Linked DNA regions of Homo sapiens: region 2 is linked to region 1. Evidence: fine-mapped expression QTL. A gene starts in region 1. The other region holds a variant in brackets. All regions are shown on one strand. Distances are from middle to middle.

Region 1 (5,000 bases):
AATATGTAATAGAGACCCACAGATTTTGAGGCTGAAGATTATAACTTCCTTCCATCACCATTGTTTTAAAATGTTTTTCTCAAATAACACATTTTTAAGATTTTATAATAAGCAACTGTTAAACATGAACTTATAAAATAAATTTGTATAAAATATGTAATAGAGATCCACTGATTTTTAGGCTGAAGATTATAACTTCCTTCCATCACCATTGTTTTAAAATGTTTTTCTCAACAAATTTTTAAGATTTTATAATAAGCAAATGTTAAACATGAACTTATAAAATAAATGTGTACCATTAAAATGTAAAACTATATAATATGTTTTCAATGTTAGGGTTCATGTGAAATTTTATTTTGCAGGGAAAAAGAGTGCTATTACTTAAAAATAAAGTTTAAAATCTCTGACTGATCAGAAAGATCCATGCCAATTGGCATATTATAAATTTGTTTTGTCTGATTATTGTCAACCATCAAGGGAATGGAAATACCAAAAAATAACAATAACAATCACACAGCAGCACTGGTGACAGCTTTCACTGAATGATTACTAGGTAATAGGTAACAGGTATTGATCTAAGTACTTTCATGCATTTAATTTTTGTTCTTACTTTCCTCCCATTGTACAGGTAAGGAAAATGAAGCTTGGAAAAATTAAATAACTTGCCTGAGATCAGACAGCTAGTGAATGTCAGTGCCAGAATTTGAACCTAATAAAATCATTTCACCATGTAGTTTTTCACTTTCAAAGTCAGTGTCAGACACACTGGCATTAGATACAAAGACCTCATGATTTCCTCCTTCAGCACTTTGTAAAGTATTTAATTGGTTCCATTTTGCCTTGACTTGAAATTTGCCCCTTCACTGGTCTGTCTTGTTTGATAAGTTCATCAAACATCAAGACTCTTTGTTCATTTTCAAAAAGGATTACAATGATAAGCTTTTATAATTAAGAATATCTCGGCGGAGATTTCCTTTACACAGTTCTCTTGCCTTTATCTTCTAATTATTACAGATGAATTTTCTGATTTCAAAATTGTATTTCCTTTAAATACAAGTTACAAATTAACTGCTTTTAAAAATGCTTTCCTCCCTTCTGAACTGTTACTTAAAGGAATTCTCACTTGCTCTAGCATTTAAAAGCACTAATGATTCAAAATTGCATCATCTATCAAGAATTAGAATTAAATAATTCTATTTAAAATCTTTAATGTTTGGGAGACAGGGATTGCTTTAAAGCTATCCCGAAGGTGAAATAAAGGACTGCTTAGGCTCCACAAAATACTTAATATTAAGATACCAAAAAAAAAAAACCCATGAAGCAAGCTTGGAAATCTCAAGAAAATAGAATGGGTAAAACACAATGTACATATGAAACTACATCACCTCCCTCTATTATCCCATAGCAAAAGATAAAGTCATTTTTAGAATCAAATGACCCAGCATCTCTATAGTCCTTTGCCTTCCCCACAGTGATTTTGAACACATTATCTAATTTTATCCTCCCCCAAAACTATGAGACAGCACTCTTATGATGCTCTTTTACAGATAAGAAAGTAGGGGTTAAGTTAACTGTTCAGCACCACTCAGGAGAACTGTCATTTATTAAGTGTCTACTATAAGCTGAGTACATTTTATATTCAGGATCTTATTTTATCTACATTAACTCTTATAGAAGAGGTATTATTATTCTCATTTTACAGCTAGGGAAACTAAGGATCAAACCGATGAGATGATTTACCCTGAATTATTCAGCTTCTAAGCATTAGAGCTGTGATTTACACATAGACCAATTTGACTCCAAGTGCACGGTCTTTTCACTGTCCCATCCTCCTCCACAGGAGTAGTAATAACATGAAAAGAGGTTATTTTCCATTCTAACACAGCCTCTGCTGCAAACATAAAAGTGTCTTAGTTCCCCAGCAGGTGATTCCTACGTGCAAGTTTTGCAGAGACATATGGCCCACTTACTGGTTCACCTTCTCCTGTGCAGTTACCCCAGGCTGACAAGTCATCAAAGACAAGATGAAGAAAACAACAGCAAACATCTCAGCCAGAAGCCACCGCACTATATTACCTTGAAGGAATAAAGCTATCTATTCAGGAAATTGGAGTAAAAGATGTCTACAGGCTGGGACCTGTAAGATCTATCTGATGTTGGAAACTCACCCAGATACACATTGATTTGCACAGAACTCACTTGATTCTCTTTCAAATATGGTTAAATAGTAACCAGGGTATTGATTACCTAAATACTCTAAAAGTGTTCCAGGCACCAAAGGCCACTGCCCTTTAGACCTTTTGAAAAACAATATCCGTGTGGTTAAGGAAAGGAAGATATTTAACTAATACCAGCTTAGCAAAGAGGTCTTATTTTCAAAAGGAGGCAAAAACCAAACCAAGATGCAGTTCTAGAATTCCTGGTCTTTTTCAGTGTCTCTTGGAACTTCTGAGGTCAGATCAATCTATTTTGCAAGACTGAAACAAGGCTAATATTGGTATATCAACTCAGACATAAAGCACTCAGAAAAATGTAGGAAATGCTAACCATTACATGAAGGTTCTACTGTACGTTGCCAAACATCTAAATCCTGAAATATATGTGTAATTCAATGGACTTTCCACTTTTCATACAGACATTGGGCATCATTGAGATCCAGGGTATCTGTTTATTGAGGGGGCCAAATGTCTTAAATAGACATCTCCAGAAGCACTCTCTAGAATTATAATGTCAATAAAACCACACATCAGGACTAATGGTGCCATACCTGCCTAAAATCTCTTACTCTTCAAGACATAAATTAAATTAAATTGAGATGGATGGATAGATAGGTAGGTAAATACATAGATGATGGATAGATACACAGACAATAATTTAATGGCTACTATGTGGCAGGCATTTCATATGTCTTATTTAATTTTCATAGCAGGGATATGAGATGGAAATTATTAATTCCATTTAGATGGAATTAATGAAGATGAAGAAATGGAGGCCCAGAGAAAGTAACTAACTTGCCCAAGGTTGTATAGCTGTCTCAATATCCTTGGGAATATTTAGATTCTCTCATTAGCAGGACTGTCCAGTAGTATCATTACTGATCTCAAAGTTAGGAGAAATTTTAATGAATGACTTGTATGCTTAAGAAAATGTGTTTCTGATTTAAATGCGGAGATTTTTTTAAAGGCACCAAATTGTTATCATCTCCCTTTTCTCAGAGATTTTGGTAAACTTGACAGAAGTAAATGTGGATTCTGGGTCCTGGGAAGTCCCCGGAGCCTGTGATTTCTGTGTCTCTCTTTCTCCTACCTCTTTTCATTTTGACTCCTTGGTCCTCTTGGCCTCAGTTCTACCCTACTTTGAAAACCACACTTTCTGTTTGCTCCACAATATTCCAGCGTGACTAGCATTTCATTTTGCTTTCACTGAAGATATGGAGGACAATGGAGGGTATTCTATCTGGACACCCTGGGGCCAGTTCAGGATGGCACATCTGGAGGCCACCTCTTTCTACCAACTTCCATCCTTTCTCATCCGTAGTCAAAGTTCCTGAAACAGATCCACAGAGCCCCCTGGGAAGTGTAGCTCAAGTTCCCCCACTCCTCCCACAGCTTTTCTCATGAGGAGACAACCTCCGCTACAACAGTGTCCTCCACTGGGGGTGATTTTGCCCTCAGGGGATATTTGGCAATGTTCAGAGATATTTATGTTATCACAACTTGGGGAGTTGTGCTACTGGCACCTAGTGCGTAAAGGCCAGGGATGCTGCCACACATCCTACAGTGCCCAGGACAAAAAATTGTCTGGCCCAAAATATCAAGAGTACCTAGGCTGGGAAACACTGCCCCACAGAAAAACTGGTCTGCCTTCCCCTGATCCCTGAAATAAAAGCAATCGGGTCTTCCTTCTTAAAGCAGCTCCTTCTCTAAATGTCTCTGATGTCTTTTCTCCTTACCCAAGCCCTCAATGGCTTTAGGACTCTTCCTTAACCTTTATCACCTCTCCCACCCCACCCCCAGCACGGTCCCTTATACCCCACCATATTCCTCTGTAATATTTTCCTGCCAAGCTTCTCTCCTTCATCCTCACTGTCTTTGATCCATATCAGGGCCTCATCTCTCTGTAACTCTCATTACCCACTCCTAGTGGGCCTCCACTTCTCACTTCAACCCTCCCTCTCTAGCACTGCTGGATTCATCATCAAGGAAACAATCTCTGACAACATCACTGTCCTACTCAGAAAGCTGCAGTGGCTCCCCCATTATCTCTAAGAGTAAAAGTCCAAATTCCTCCATAAATGAGTCCCAGCCCATTTTTGCAGCCTTATCAACCACAACTCTGCAATGATCCCCCACAGCATAGTCTAGGTTCCCTTCACCTTCCTCATGCTTTGCTGCTGCTGTGGCTTTGCTCACACTGGGCCTTCCATCTGAACTATCTTCATCCGTCATCTCCTCCCTTTTTGCCAAGCATCTTCTCAAATGTCAGATCCATCATGGATCTTTTGCTGGTGGCTCCATCTAAAAGGTGTCTGCTTGGAAGCTCAACCTCATAAATGTGCTAGCAGCACTTATAATTTTTGTTTCATATTCTTCTAGGGGAGCAGGGCGTAACTGGAGAATGAACATGTCTTTAGTGTAAGTTCTGTGTCTGATTCTTATTTATAATCATCCATATCACTTAACAATAAAATCTTTAATAGGAAATTGTTGTTGATTGAGTGAATAAGCAAATAAGCAATTAAAAATAGATTACTATTTCAGAATATGATTAGACATATTTTCTCATTTGATTCTCAAAATAATCTCATGAGATTAAAAATCATTATCCTATCCTGGGCAACATGGTGAAACCCTGTCTCCACAAAAAATACAAAAGTTAGCCAAGCATGGTGGCATACACTTGTAGTCCCAGATACTTGGGAGGCTGAGGTGGGAGGATCACCTGAGCTCGGAGGCAGAGGTGGGAGGATCATCAGATCTTGTGAACCAAGATCACGCCAC
Region 2 (5,000 bases), 48 kb before region 1:
ATTACTTAGGTGGATGGTGGAGTGCTGCTGAATTAAAGCCACAGGACAGGCTGATTAATGGGGGCTGGAGGATGCCTGTTGTGTGATTATGCTCATGAAAGATCTGGCAACAGCCTGCCACGTGATGCTGGGAGAAGAGAATTCCAGTCTGACTTGAGAAGCATGACTTGACTGCAGAGATTTGCCATCTAAGACCCCAAAGAGGGTCCCAGCCAGCAAGGGGAGTCTGTGACTTACAAAGAATCATAGAACCTGAGAGCCCAAGCACTCTTAGACACTTAGCTCATACTTTTCATTTATAGCTGAGATGCCTGAGGTTCATGAAGGTTAATTATATTGCCTAAGGCCATACAGTTAAAAAATGGTGAAGCTGAGATTCACGCTCAAGTCTGTTATGTTTAGAAGCCTGTGGTATTTTACTAATCTCAGTTATTGCCTCAGACAAAAGAATTCTGCCATCTGAGAGGAAAATGTAGTAAGCACCTACTGTGTACCATCCCCAGCATATCGCATATTGGGCAATGTAGACACCTTGAGAATATAACTAATGTGAATATGATGCAAAACTGCAAAGGTAAGATCCTGCCCTTGAGAAGTTAGCAGGCTGGGGGCCATATCTTAAATGAAGACCAATCTGTATCCCGAGAGTTTTTTGTTTCAATATACCAGGGCTAGAAAGGAGTCTTTCATCAGAGGCTGTAAGAGATGCCAAAATCAGAGCTGTCTACAGTGAGCCTGTGGGAAAATGACACTAACAAGTTGGGGTCGGGTCAGAGGAAGTCAAACCTGGTACCCAAATCCAGGAGTTGAAACTGGCATTGGAAGCCAGGACGCAGAACCAGAGAGATAAACAGAAAGAGTTGGAGGTGGGGGTCTGGGGTGAAAGGAACAGAGAAAGGTCTGGAGCCATTATAAAGAACTTGCCCAGATAGGTGTGTAGTGTGGATAGACTGACTATATTCATGGAACTAGACAATCCTCTGCCATTGCTCCACCTCATCCCATCAGGCTGCACTCCTTAGGCTTAACTTTGGACCAGGTCAAACTGCAGTTTATTTGGGGCTTTTGAACTCAGTGAGCTCTGGAGTTGATCAATCCCAACCCAGGCTGTACATTGAGATCATCTGGAGTACTTTTGAAAAATATAGGTAACTAGGCCCAACCTCTATCAATTCTAATTGTATATTTCTATGAAATCAGGAATCTGTTTTTCAGACAAGTATCCCAGATGATTCCTCTTCATTGGATCTTGGATCAGATGTTGAGTATGGTGGTCCTACAGAGTATCTCTGGTGGCTTGCCACAGGACTCTGGCATCCTGTCTCAGTTGATACCTTTGTCAATGCCTTGGATATGGACTTAGTAGCCAGTTCCATCATATCTACTCAGAATAAGAACTAGAAGAAGCCAAGGCTAAGTCAGTTAAAGAAACAGGATCCAAAAAGGTCTCAAAAGGCTGGGTGGATACACTGACCAAGTGTATTAGTCCATTCTCATGCTGCTAATAAAGACATACCCAAGACTGGGTGATTTTATAAAAGAAAGAAGTTTAATTGACTCACAGTGCAGCATGGCTGGGGAAGCCTCAGGAAACTCACAATCATGGAAGAAGGGGAAGCAAACACATCCTTCTTCCCATGGCACCAAGAAGAAGTGCCAAGCAAAGGGGGAAACCCCCTTATAAAACCAGCAGAACTCATGAGAACCCACCCATTATCATGAGAACAACATGAGAGTAACCACCCCCATGATTAAATTACCTCCCACCAGATTCCTCCCATGAGACGTGGGGATTTTGGGAACTGCAATTCAAGATGAGATTTGGGCGGGGACACAGCCAAACCATATCACCAAGCATAGCAAAATGAGACTGAACTGGGAAAACTTTAACATCCTACCCTACAGACAAAATACCAAATGAATAAGCACAGTGAGAAATAGACAGCTTAGCGGGAGAACAAAAGAAAAGGCCTTAGAGTTTTAGATTACTCCCCACTCAGTAGGGTAATGAAACCAGGGTACAAATTATAATTAGTAAAATGAAGGAGGAAGTAATCTCACTCTCCTCTCCATAGATTAGGGAAACTCAGAGCTGTGTGCAAAAATGCTTTAAAAAATGAAATAAGAAAATATGATTTTCTTCAATGAACATTATCCAGCCTTTAAAAAGAAGAAAATCCTGCCATATGTGACAATGCGATTGAACCTTGAGGATATACTGCTATATGAAATAAGCCAGTCACAAAAGGATAAAGACTGCCTGATTCCACTTATATTAGATATATGAATAGTCAGATATATAGAATCAAAGGGTATCATGGTTGTTGCCAGGGGCTGGGGGCAAGAGGAAAGGTAGAATTACTAATCAATGACCATAAAGTCTCAATTATACAAGATAAAGTCTGAGAGCAACATGTCCCTATAGTTAATGACACTGTATTGTACTG[T/C]TAAAGTTGGCTAAGAGGGTAGATTTCATGTTAAAGTATTTTTACCATAATAAAATTTAAAAATAGGGAATGATCAGAGAAGAACAAGCATGAGGGTGAAGATGTTCAAAGCCACATCCTTTTGAAAATATTAGAGGCGACTAAGGATATTTACTTGAAGAAAGGAAAAAAGATTTATCTTTAAGAGAGACCAGTAGAACTGGATTAAACCCTCCAGAGAGTTGTCTTGAGGAAGAAGAATAAGGTTTATTTGTGTGGTTGCAAGGGCAAGAACTAGGACCCAAAGGCCAAAAGCTACAGGAAGGCAAGTTTAGGCTTAGCATAAGGTCGATCATTATCACAGTCAGAAGTCAAGCAGAGATGAGGTGTTTCAGCAGGCAGTGAGCTCTCACCATTGCAGGAGACCAAGCTGAGGCTGGCTGTTTGCCTGTGAGGGTACAGGAGGGTTTGAAGGGTAGAAAAGACCAGCGATCTTTTAAGGTGACCTCTAATGCCATGATCCTGAGACTTTAAGAACACAGCAGAATACTTTAAGAACATTTGAGACAACTTTGATAAGTACCTAATGACGTTTTACTGTGTTAGAGCTAGTTGAGAAATAAAGATGACTCAGGAGAGTGCTTGACCTCTATGAGCTGAGAGTCAAGTGTGGGGAAATGGACAAGGAAACAGATAATTATTGTAGTGTGCGAGGAGGACTCTGACACAGGGCAGCAGGGTCAGGGAAGGCATCTGTGGGGGTCAGAAGAAGGAGCCAGAGACAAGTAGAACAAGTAGGGATTAGCCAGACAAAGCTAGGAGTATAATGGGAGATGAGGGAGACCCTGCAGAGGACTTGTTTCCTCAGCAGCAAGATTCTACTCAGAAAAGCCAATGTGACTTAAACTCCAGAGTGGAAAAGAGAGAGATGCAAATCAGTTGAGGTCCCTAAGGAAGTACAGAGGTAGTGGGATGCTGGATTGCTTCCCAGTCTAGTCTGGTCTCAAGGTGAGCTGTTTCTGTGGCTACTTGACAGGCTAGGAGCCCAAAGGATATGAGTCTGGCCACCATGTCTTCTACTTGTTTCCCACATGGTCTTGGTTGTGGCGCAGGTGGGAGAGCCACCCTCACACCTCCATGGAGCTTCTGCATGTCTGTGGCTCTCAGGCAGAACCAGGCAGCTTGATTTCCAAGGTGCCAGAACACTGCAAGTCTGTCATTCCTCAGATTAAAAGCATTAGGTGGAAAACAGCAGGTGTAGTTCATTATCTCTTTGCAAAAAACAAATACCATTCATGTTGCTGTGATTTATGTGCTACATTGCTTTGCTATGTTGGTTGCCCCCAAAGACAGCCTCAGAATGGGAAAGAGAATCTAATAGTCTATTTTCTATCATCACATTGGAAAAGATGATTGGAGTGTGTGGCTGGGCTAGTTGGGAGGTGTTAGCTAACTCACCTGTCCCCTTTGTGTTTCTGTTTATCCTTTAAAACTCACACTTCTTCCAAAACACCTGAGAATAAAATGAGTACCTCAGTGCCTTTGCAGGTGCTAGAAAGTCCCTTTATCTCTTTCATTGAGCTTCTCCCACTGAGCTCCAGACAGCCTTTTCTTAATCCCCAAGGGCCCTATGTCTATGTTCCAGTGTATCCCTGTGCTTCTCTCCAGCATAGTATTTAGCTCACTCTAGTAATTGTCAATTTCTTGGTCTGTTCTTCCTATAAGACTACAAGCTTCTAAGTCATCTCTCGGGTTTGCAAATCTCTGCACAGAGCCTGGCATGTGCCAAGCCCCCCAGGAGGGCTTGGGGATTGGCTGACTTTAGCCTATATAGACAATGCCTCTAAAACGTTCTAGGAGTCATAGGTCTTTCTTTAATTGAAGATGCAAATCACAGTTTTGTAATATCTCATGCTAGATTAATATGCTATATTTTATAAAGCACTTTCAGCTGCATTATCTCATTGGAGACTCTGAACAATATTCTGGGACAAGGAGAATTTACCCATCTTACAGGCTAAGATTGGAAAAAGCAGGAATTGTGGTGGTTAAGAGTGTAACCTCTGGGGTCAGAGTCCTACCATTCACCTTCTCTGGTAGTGACTTGAGTAACTCATTTAATGGCTTTCTGCCTCATACTCCCAATCTTTAAAACGGGAATGATAATTGTTTCTATAAGTGAATTCCTAAAACGTGTCTGGCACAATTAGGTCTTCAATAAATACTAGCTTTTATTGTTAGGTAACTTGCCAAAGTCACCCAGGACTAACAGGCCCAAGAATCAGGTCTTGAAGCAAGATATGCCATACTCAAACACAATGGATGCTCCATTTCATCATGCTACTGTTATTCTGCAGAGGAACATTCATCATGCATGGTGTGTAGCCAATGGTAGTCCTGAAAGGAGCCTTCCAACTCCTCATTCCCTGACTACCTCATTCTACAAAGAAGCTTAGAGAAAGGAAGCTAGGCAGAAGAAGGAGGCAATGTTGACTACAGTCCCATGTCTTCCTCCTACTTGATAAGGGTTCTTCAGAGGCTCTGACTCTTCTCCATAATTTCAGCCATGACAAG

Alleles and levels. Alleles are on the strand shown, and positions count from the first base shown. SD is a standard deviation of normalised expression in the study named.
For the expression in lung of the gene that starts at base 2,152 in region 1, T is the low allele of the variant in region 2 and C is the other (small effect, 0.24 SD a copy in GTEx).

Evidence for each region. PIP is the estimated chance that this variant, and not a neighbour inherited with it, causes the effect. A credible set is the group of variants that fine-mapping cannot tell apart.
Region 2: its variant is the best candidate, but not a certain one, in a credible set for the expression of C8A in lung (GTEx, PIP 0.58).

Annotation. Positions count from the first base shown.
Region 1 is chr1:56,851,949-56,856,948 of GRCh38, reverse strand. C8A (complement C8 alpha chain) reads right to left here and starts at 2,152. Exons shown (of 11, transcript NM_000562.3): 1 at 1,971-2,152. The coding sequence starts at 2,047.
Region 2 is chr1:56,899,997-56,904,996 of GRCh38, reverse strand. The region is part of intron 7 of C8A (complement C8 alpha chain); the gene reads right to left. Among named protein-coding and RNA genes, the nearest start is that of C8A, 48 kb to the right of the region's middle. The variant T/C (reference allele first, on the strand shown) is at 2,448.